Regions from separate parts of the Homo sapiens genome. Here region 1 is linked to region 2. Evidence: fine-mapped expression QTL. Tissue or cell type: whole blood. Region 2 holds a variant in brackets; the other region holds the start of a gene. All regions are shown on one strand. Distances are from middle to middle.

What was found. PIP is the estimated chance that this variant, and not a neighbour inherited with it, causes the effect.
Region 1: it holds the start of COL5A2, and the variant in region 2 is fine-mapped to the expression of COL5A2 in whole blood (TOPMed, PIP above 0.99).

What each region holds. Positions count from the first base shown.
Region 1 is chr2:189,177,201-189,182,805 of GRCh38, forward strand. COL5A2 (collagen type V alpha 2 chain) reads right to left here and starts at 2,561. Exons shown (of 54, transcript NM_000393.5): 1 at 2,308-2,561. The coding sequence starts at 2,404.
Region 2 is chr2:189,057,199-189,062,527 of GRCh38, forward strand. COL5A2 (collagen type V alpha 2 chain) reads right to left here. Exons shown (of 54, transcript NM_000393.5): 30 at 4,364-4,417; 31 at 3,532-3,585; 32 at 1,651-1,695; 33 at 1,231-1,329; 34 at 122-229. Among named protein-coding and RNA genes, the nearest start is that of MIR3606, 64 kb to the left of the region's middle. The variant G/A (reference allele first, on the strand shown) is at 3,073.

The DNA.
Region 1 (5,605 bases), 120 kb after region 2:
TGTGACTGTTATAGATAAAATTTGAAAAATGTACTTGCTTTTCATGTGTGCCTCAGATATTTCTTTAATTTAAAGCATCGATCTAAGCTTACTCTTCCCCAAACTCAAAATCAAATGGAGTTTCTAAATTATGACACCTTTATTAAGCTTGTGATAGGCCTGAACAGGAAAAAGAAAGTATTGCCAAGTATCCATACAATATCAACTTAAACCAAAATATGCATAGTAAGTAAGTACAATATAAGTTAAGCAGCTCTGAATATACTATACTCTGGAATTATTTTCTCTATTATGTTTGATTAGGGCAATGACGACTTTCTTTTGCTGTTGAATTTTTATCACTTATATTCTCTTAAGTTGAGAAATAAAATACTGGAATTTTTTACAACACATATGCAAGCAATTACACATTCTGTAAAATTTGATGTTTGGAATTCCATTTTCTGTGCTATTTGGTTATACTGTTCGCGGGGGGTACTGGGGTTGGATTGGAGTTGGGGACTTTTTTGCATCAAGCATCACATTCCTTACATTTATGTCAATTACTATTAAGAAAAATTATCTGCTCATTTTTCAAAAACACCTACAGAGTAATTATAACTATTTGGGAATGTCTTTTAAAATATGGCTTATTTCATGTACCTTGTGAAACAGTCCTTTCATTTATTCACATATTCAATTATTTCCATACTTTATTAAAGTACTTTATTCATTTTAACATAAATTAACAAAGAAAGTGGTATTAAAGGTTTTAAATTAAAGTTGGTTGTTTTGGTGGGGGAGGGGAGTAAACTGTTCTTTCTAGAGTCAAATTTTCAATTTCTATTGTAATTTTTCTGTGTTTTTCTCCTCCTGTTTTCTTCTACTTTCTATTCAATTATTTTTGCCACCCTTCCAAACAACACATGCTTTTCATGCCATTACAAAGAAACTCAAAAGTTTTCACCTTTTATAAATTACCTCATATTTTAAAAACATAAAACGTAACATAAAAAGCTCCAAGTCTTAGAAAGTGCCCCCTCTATGGGACTCCTGACAGATTGTTGGATATTCATTTACAAATTCGTATTTTCACTTTTTAAGCTTTTTAGAACTTCTGATCTCTAGATTAATTTTATAAACTTTTTGAAACCAAAAACACACAGAAGCAGATATTTGTTCTAAAAATATAGATATATACATAGTATATATACATATATACCTGTATGTATGTGTCTATATATGAAAGTAATAGAAAAGGTTAATGAATGTCCAAAGTTTTAAAAGCTTGAGTTTGATGTTACATGGTTGAGTTGATGAAAATCTACAGTGGCTTATTTTAAAGGAGTACATGTCTGTATTTGAAATTGCAACCCTCAAGATTAAAGATTTAATAGAGGAATCAATTTAAATATTTTCTTATATACTACAACAGCTATGCATTTTTGCTTAACCATACCATATAACCCAACTGTAACATATGAAAATTGCATAGGAAAAAAATGTGGTCACCAGGCAAGATTTATCTTTAAAAAAAAAAAAAAAAAAAAGCTTGGGTCTAAGGGGTAATGTCCATGCAAATATTCCATGCCAAATAAGATATATACAAGACATGCTGATTTCCTGCCTTCCGCCATCCAACCGGGAACCACCACTGTCCTGTTAATCAAGCCAGTAGGGTGGGAAAATACCACTGTTTAAGAAATCTGGCTTCTATCAGCCTCTGTCATGGAGAAACAAACGAGACTGCCTCCCAGTAAGCAAAAGTGATCACATTTTCACAAATGAAAATGGTAAAAAGAAGTTTAAATTGTTAAAGAGGAAAGAATGAGGAGCCAAAGACAAAGAAAAATCAAAGCTATCAGAGTTGCTGCAGAGGTTTTACTAAACAAAGAATTTTATGAAGCAGCTGAAGTTCAGTACAAAAAGACTCCACCCTACCCAGCTTCTGCCGCGACTTTTCCTTGCTCTGAAAACTCCAGCCCACAGAACAGAGCTCCTCTAACTAAAATGCCTTTAGTGCTCCGTTTTAAGCATTCACTCTTTTCTTATTTTAAACGTCCCACTCTCACACTCAGCCAAAAGGACTTATTGTAGGCTTTCCCAGAAAAATTTAGTAGTGTACTCTCTCCAACGGTGGATCTAGAAGCTCCGGATTTACAAACATCCCAATTGTCTTTCAAGTCGTTTTCCAGGTGCAAATCCGTCAGCCCCCTTCTCAAACTTCAAACCAGAACCTCCTCTTCACGCTCTTCCTGAGGCTTAACATTCCACCTATTTCCCAAACCGTGCAATAAACACTACAAGCAAAGCAAATGGCAAACTCACCATCCTCGTCTTCTTCCTGGGCTTTTATTGAGACAAATTGCCCTAATAAAACAATAAGAATGAGGAGAGGTCTTGCTTCCGCCCAGTTTGCCATCATGTCTAAATATTAGACATGTGGGTTCTCCTGAGAGTGAAAAGTAGATTCTGAGGTTATTGTAGCACCATGAAGTCAGCTGTGGGCTCTTCTTTCAGCACCAGCCCCAGGGCAGCCTCTGCAAACCCCCTTTTTCAGCACCAGCTCCAGCACAGTCTGCGAAAACTTTTTTCAAGCGATGCAGCTTTAAATAGGAAGAATGCTGCCTCCACTTCTTTTCCTGCCCCTTTTCAGCTTGTTCAGGCTCATAACCATCCAGTGTCTGCCAAGCAACGGTCTGATTGATGGTAAACAACCAAATCAGAACACGCGTCTCTGTGCCTGAACTTTCCCTATTTCATTTAACTTTTAAGCATAGATGGGGCTTAATAACAGAAACAAACATTTGTTTCTCTTTTCTTTTATTTTTTAAGAAAGGCTGTTAGAAGAAAAGGGTTCTATTTTCCCCTCCCTAACCCTTCCCCCCAGACACACACCCTTTAACTTTTCCCCTATAAGCTGAAAAAGACATTCCGAAGGAAATCCAGCCTTTTACCCTAGTTTTTTTACATTTAGATAATTCAAGACTCTCTTCTCCACCTTAAATCTTTAAACAATCACATTTTAACCCTTTCTTTTGACTGAATAGGGAGTATTCTTATCCCCTTCTCAGATTCGGTTTCTTTTCCCATACTCTGGAAGGAGATTATTAGAATGTTGCCCAGGTAAAGTCCAGGTTAGAAAACCATTTTGGATAAATGAATTTGTGATACATTGTAATTTGAATTAAGAAAGCATGTCCTTTCCTAATTTCTCCACATCTCTTGTTAAGGGGCCACATCTTCAGGTTCCTCTTGTCCCAGAGAGTTTTACCATGTTGAAAAATAGTCTACTAAGCAGTGCAGAGGAATGGGAAGTACTCTACCTTTGGATGAAAAAAGGCTTGCTTCTGCCTTTTGTGAGTGGTTCTGCCACTCAATAATTTTGTAAATGTGCATATAGTCCTTTATCTCTGTGCACTCCAATTTTCTCATTTGAGAAAAGGGCTTTACCCTGACCAGTGTACAGGGTTTAGTGACACTAAAATGAGTAATGTATTATTAATGAAGCTCCAAATTGCAAAGAGCTACATAAAAGCAGATGGTGGTATTATTAGCTTTAAGCCAGCTTTGCAGGGAATATGATAGCCCCAGTTGAACATGCATTTTAAGGAAAATTATCGATGAACTTTTGTGCCACCCTCACACTTGCCAAGATCTTAATGACCTCAGAGAGTTCTATACAATCTAATGTATTTGCCACCTTGAGTCTCCCTAGAATCAGGATGGATGTTCTATACAATACAAGTGAGTCAATTGTTTATAATTATTGGGCAACAGGTGCCTTGCACTGTGCTAAGCACTGGGCAGAAAGGATGACATAAAAGAAATAAAAGACATACCCATCACCTTCAAGGAACATATGTAGGTGTTGAGAAACTAAATTTACAAGAAATAAAGATATATAAGCCAGAGCATATAAATATGTGAGGGATGCATTAAGCCCGGAGAAAGGAGAAATTATCAAATGAGATTAGGCAAGCAAGACATTATTACTGTTCTTAATAGAAGAAATCCAAGAACCTTTGCATTTTAGCTTTGGAACTAGACTCTGGATAAATATTCCAGTGGAGGTCAATTTTCCCGGTTGTTTCCAGCTTCTAACCCTGTACCTCTCAGTTTATCTTTTCATTTAGACATGTCCCATTTCAATGACTTCTGTCACCACCACACTGTTCTCAGGGGTGCCCTTCCACTTAATGAATGGGCTAAGTAAGGACCAAAAATCACCTTTCAGTTAATTCTTTCTAGAATATCTTAGAGAGGCTAGGACTTGAAATCCATCTGACTATATATTCAAAGATAACAGGAAGATAAGTAAATGTGGGGGGGAGGAATTAACCTTTCTCTGAGCTTGCCAGTCCTATTCTACCATGAGGCAATTTTAGACCAATACCACCCTGATACCGAAGGGCTGGCACAATTTTCAGGCACCTTGTGCAGCATTTTTACTGAAGTGCAAGACGGCAGACATTTATGGAGAATCTACAACTCTCAGATCCTATGCTGGAGATAAAACAATGATTAGGCAAGATTGCAGGACTTGTAGCAGAGTCAGTGTATGGAACACTCAGTGGCTGCTCAGATCAGTAGTTTAGTATCTGTTATCTGTTTGTTAATAAAGTTGTTTTAAATTTAACTATAAACATGGCTTATATAAGAAAGGTTAAAACCACCATGCAGTCTCTCATGGTTGCCACCAGTTTCAATCTCCTCTTCCCACCCTACTGAAAGCTCATGGTATGACAGAAGCATAGCAAATATTTGTCAGAAGACCTGAGATAAGTAAATATTCCATATTGTCCTTGTGAACTCTTGAAATCTTATTGCAATCAAGTCATAAATAGCAAAGTATTTTGCAACTTGGGCTTTTTCTCTATGTCTGGTTTTAGGGTCCCACATTACAATTTGGAAAAGACTAAAATATACACAGGTATTGACCAGGAATATCTGTTTAATATATGTGGTTGAATTCAGAATAGAGGACAATGCCATTTCTTAGTCCTTAAAGAACTGATTATAGACCTCACTGCTGCAGTGGGGTACTCAGAAATCTGTCCCAATTCCAGTGAAGCCTATCCTAACAGTGTATGTTTTGTAATAATATGTGCTAGTGGGTGAATATTTTCCAATTCTCACAGCAACCCTGAAAGGTACTTATTATTTTTCTCAAATCATATATAGGCGATTACGGTTCAAAGATGTTTACTTGCTCAAGTTTGCTCACCTAATAAGCAATAAATCTAGGGTTCCACTTCAGTGATGTCTGACTCCAGAGTGAATGTTCTCACCCCTTTTTAGCTCTTTTTAGACCTACTTGACACTCAAACTTCTATTACCACCACACTGTCCCCAGGAGGAGCCTATTTCCAATTAATGAATGGGCTGAGTAAGCACCAAAAATCACCCTTCAGCTACTTCTTTCTGGAATATATGAGAAAATCAGGACTTGTAAACCACCTTGCTAAATATTCAGGAAGAATAACAGAAAAACAAATAATAAAAATCAAAGGTTCTTGTATTTCTTCCACCAAGAAAAGTGATAATGCCTTACTTACCTAATCTCATTTTATAATCTTCCCTTTCTCCGAACTTCTGCTGAGCTTGATGCATGACACACATATTT
Region 2 (5,329 bases):
AAAATGAATGACTAGTGACTCAGGATGGTAGAAATAAAAGCCTGCTCAAGAAATCATTTCATTTTCAGCAGAAAGTCTGAATAAATGAACTGAAAAAAAAAAAAAAAAAAAAAGGACTTACTCTGTCACCCTTGGGGCCAGGAGTTCCTGCAATTCCTCTTTCTCCCGGCATACCTTGAAGACCTGGTGGGCCTGTATCTCCAGGGGTCCCAGATGGACCTGGACTGCCCTAAAATGAACCAACATTAAGTGACCATACCAATAATATTAAGATTAAACTAATGAAATTGCTTTTTAGTGGGTCAAAAGTAGTTGTCAGCAATTTCATGTAGTTCAACTTAGTGCTTATATTTTTCATCTGAGAAAGTTGTCTCTGAGTGAGTTGATATTTTGAAATTAAAAAAACCAGATTTTGTTTTTGATTGCTGCTTTATATTTTTAACTTTTCTCTTAAGAGGCAATTGAACGCTATTTCAAATAAAAAGGATAGAGTTGCCTTTTTTTCCCTCTGTTGGCAACATAATGGAATATATTAAGAAAGAAAGACATTACATTTAGAGAAATATTTCATTCTCTCTTTAATGAAACTGATATTTGATATTAACCTGGTTTTCAGGCTAATATAGTGTCTAAATTGTAGTAGACTGCATCAATCACTCTAAACCCTGAAAATAATAAGGGGTCTCATGTCACATGACCATGAAAAATTCTACTTCAATTGTTTATACTGAAGTTGGCCACATTATTTTCTACCAATCACTAAATGGCACACATTTCTGCCTTATGATGCATTATATTTTCAGATTTTAAAAGTTCCATATTTTCACATATGTAGTAAGCAGAATTGTGAAACCTGAGACAAGGAAAATGGAGCATATTATTAGAAAAGCCTCCTAATAAATTATGTAATTTTCTATTTCTTTCCTCTGTTTATTCATAGAAGCCACTAATAAAATGTACATAAACATTAGAAATGTGTTTGTATATGGAAGTCTATCACCATGTGCACTAAACTACAATCCCCATCAAAGAAGAGAGTCTTCTTTTTAGCTGACACTTTAGTTGCAAGGAAAAAGCCTAGTAAGCGCTCATTAAATATTTGTGGAAGAAGAAAATGATATAATCAAATTATCTTTCAAAAACAAGACAAATGCATTCTCACACCATCATGCGTTTATTAAGCAGTAATTTTAAAGCATTTTAAAACACTGAGATCACTATGACACTTACTTTTGGGCCATCAGGACCATGTCCTCCAGCCATTCCCTTCTCACCAGGGAGTCCAGTTATCCCAGGTTCTCCTCTTTCCCCAGGATTTCCTCGTTCTCCCTAGCACAAAATTGGGATGTCAAATAATCTCAATACTTGATCTAAAAATAGGTCAAAATGTTTCTGAGAAATGGCTTCTACTGCGGAAAAATTCAGAAATGAGACATTACTAAATCTCAATTTTCTAATTTAGTGATAAGAAATAAATTTGAAGTAAGGATATGCTAGTTTCATAGCACAAAATATTTCTCATAAAATTAATTTTTATCCAGTCAAAGAATTTATAGGTTAAAATAAATCCCAGTTTAAGATTTTAAAAGACACCTTTTAAAACTGAAGCCAGTGGGAAACAACATTAATCATGAAGATTAAAATACTTACTCTAGGTCCTAACGGGCCAACTGCTCCGGGATCTCCAGGAACACCCTATAAACACATTTTTTTTTTTTAATGGAACAAGAGCTTTGAGTTTAGGCATTTATCAGAAAACTTTCCAGTTCATACACCTAGTTTCTATTAATGTGCCATTAGAAGGCTGCATAAGCCAACAATTTAAAGAAAGAAAAGTACGTATATTTTTATAAATGAGGGAATATTACATGTTTTAGATGAAAACATTTTTCCAAAAAACTTTGTATTATACCTGAATGTTTGATTTTTGGCAATGAGAACATGCAAAGTACTATTTCACAAAGATAGAGCATTAGTTTTTTAGAGGCAACAAAATACATGCTAAATGTCTTTTTTTAAACTAATGGAAGATGAAAAAGTTTAAATAAAGAAAAGTTATATAAAAAGGGCTAAAGAGTTGGTCTTTTAAATAGAACCAATCCAATTCTACTCAATTAAGTAAATCTTTCTTGAGCCTATAATATGGACAAAGCACTCTACTAGGTATTGTGCATTCAAACCAGTGCAGTCATGTCTAAATTAAAAGTTTGTTTGTTCTTACATAAAAGAAAGTTTGTCAATTTGAAATTTCTTTCTTTGATAAAGATAACTTTATCAAATAGGCCTCCAATCTTATTCTCCGAAATGGACTGTCCTCACTGTGGCCTGATCTCCCTAATCTTATCATATTACTCCTTCCTTAAAAACCCTTCTTTTTTCTTTTCTGGTTTTTTTTTTTTTTTTTTTTTTTTTTGAGACGTTGTCTCGCTCTATCACCCAGGCTGGAGTACAATGGTGGCATGATCTTGGCTCACTGCAACCTCCACCTCCTGGATTAAAGTGATTCTCCTGCCTCAGCCTCCCAAGTAGCTGGGAATACAGGCATGTGCCACCATGCCCAGGTAATTTTTGTATTTTTAGTACAGACGGTTGGCCAGGCTGGTCTCGAACTCCTGATGCCAAGTGATTCACCTGCCTCAGTCTCCCAAAGTGCTGGGATTACAGGTGTGAGCCACTGTGCCCAGCCTAAAAACTCTTCCTTAGCTTCCCATTACTCTAATGATGAAGAACAAATTAGAATCAAATTAAAGCCCTCCATAATCAGGCCCCTGAGTCACCCTGCAGCCCCCTTTCTATTTTCCCCAAATTACATTACCCACTCTGATTTGTAAGCTTGTCTCATTTCCTGGAGGTTTTTCCTATCTTCCCTCCTTCATCATTATCATCATTCATCTCTCAGATCTCATAAAAGATATTACTTTGTCTGGAAAACCTTTCCTAAAACCCCCAAGTCTTATTTAGGTGCATCTTTTTTGTTTCCATAAACATAGTACCTCCCTTATTATAGCATTTAGAGCATGCTATTATTGTAATTGTCCTATACTCTCTGAATCCTACTATACTGTAAGGACA[G/A]CAAGGTCCAAATCCATTTTGTTCAGCTGGTTCAGGCCAGTGCTTTGTAGAGGCAAGCACACAGAGTGTTCAGCAAATATTTATTAAATGATTAAATGAACAAATGAATCATTCAAAGAAAAATAAATAAATCTATGAGCCAGGAAAACGACAGAATAAAATTGTTAGTATTTGTCCATAACTGTTTATATAAAGTGGTTAAGAACACATCTTGGGAAGCAGATGACCTGGGTTCAAATCTATTAACTGTGTGACTTTGGGAAAGTTATCTAACATCTGTATGCCCCATTTTCCTCATCTACAAAATGGAGATAATGATAGTACCTAGTACATAGGGCTGCTTTGAGAACTCAAAGAGATAATGTATGTAAAGGAAAGCACAACAGAGCCTCACACATAAAAAGTGATAATTGAGCCAGCAATGTATAGTGTTGCCATTATTATTATTTAAACACTTACTTGATCACCTGGTTTTCCACCTTCTCCAGGAGGCCCTGGAGGACCAGGAAGCCCCTAAAACAAAAGTAAGAAAATAAAATTGTGAATCTGTGTAAGTTTAACAGGCTACCAGTGTTAACAGTTTACCTTTTACAATTCATGGGGTCTCCAAGACTATATTTTCAATGAAAATATATTGTTCAGACATTTTAAGTAAAAAATATTGTTCAGAAGCATTAAAAAAAGACTACCAATAAAACACAACAGCTAGTCAATTTATAGGATTGTATTTTCATCTGCACACCACTTAGCAAAAAAAGAGATAATGTAACAGGAGCTTCTTCATATTTATAGAGTTTTTATGGCTCTGTGAACAATATTTTAGACTGCTAGAATATTATTTAAAGTCAGTCCAGAAAGTTTTTTTTACAAATTATGATCTTCCTCCTATTAAATAATGTACATACTGATATATGTAGATAAATTATGAAACTTTGTTCAATAAAAAATTCTAGTCACTGTGCCGATAAAACAAAATCAGCCTTAAAATGGTTTCATAAACTTTGTTGAGCTATCAGAAACATTTTATTCCTGATATCTTTTTATTACTTTTTTGTTATTTTTTATTTGTTTTGTTCATAATTTGCAGGTTTGATCAGTTTTTTTAGAAGCCCATTCCTTTACTTTGAACAAAAATGTTCGATTTTATCCAAATGTCTATACTATCTACTAAAAGAGGGATGACTTTTTGAAAATTGTAGAATTTCAAATCTTCTGACCATATCTTTTTTTTTAAAAAAAAAAAGCATTTTAGTTAATGGAAGATGAAATGGAAAACCGAATTAGTGCATACCTGAAAACCTGTGGGGCCTGGAGGTCCTTGTTCTCCTCTTTCACCAGCTAGACCCTAAGTTGTGAAGGAGAAAATAATTGTGAATATAACCAGATCTTTGTCTGCTTCCTCTCTACGTGAACCACTAGAAGTACTGATATTTATTTGTATTTCTTCCAATCACATGTTTTTCTCTTTAGCCAGGTAATAAACTAGTATTAATAGTAACCAAATGGTATTGTTTGAAGTCTCTGGAGGTGAGAAAATATCTTCTAAAGCCAGTAACTGATAACATGTATTTATTTTTTGATCCAAACTTAAATGTCTGGAGCCAATTGTAAACTTATGGGGAAATTGGATTGAATATAGGAAAACCCATTACTTTTGTATATGTAATCTAAAAACATAATATTTTTATTATAGTTTATTTCTGAATGTCTTAAGAATTATTTATCAAGACTTCAAAAACAGAATGACTAAAGAAAGCAAAGCTAACATTTTAGAAAGATTTAAACTGCCCCACCCCCCCAAAAAAATATGCCAAAATATTTCGGATAAACACTTCATTTGAAAGTCCTAAAATGAAAATAGACCTCAAAGAATAAGTATTATTCCTTTTATGTCCTAAAAAATACCTTAAATAATTTTTTTTTTTTTTTTGGAGATGGAGTCTTGCTCTGCCACCCAGGCTGGAGTGCAACGGTGTAATTTTGGTTCACTACAACCTCCGCCTCCCGGGTTCAAGTGATTCTCCTACCTCAGCCTCCTGAATAGCTAGGATTACAGGCACATGCCACCATGCCAGGCTAATTTTTGTATTTTTAATAGAGACAGGGTTTCACCATGTTGGCCAGGCTGGTCTTGAACTCCTGACCTCAGGTAATCCACCTACCCTGGCCTCCCTAAGTGCTGGGATTACAGGCGTGAGCCACCATGCCCGGCCTTACATAAATTTTTATAAGATGCATTATTGAGAGAAGGTAAATA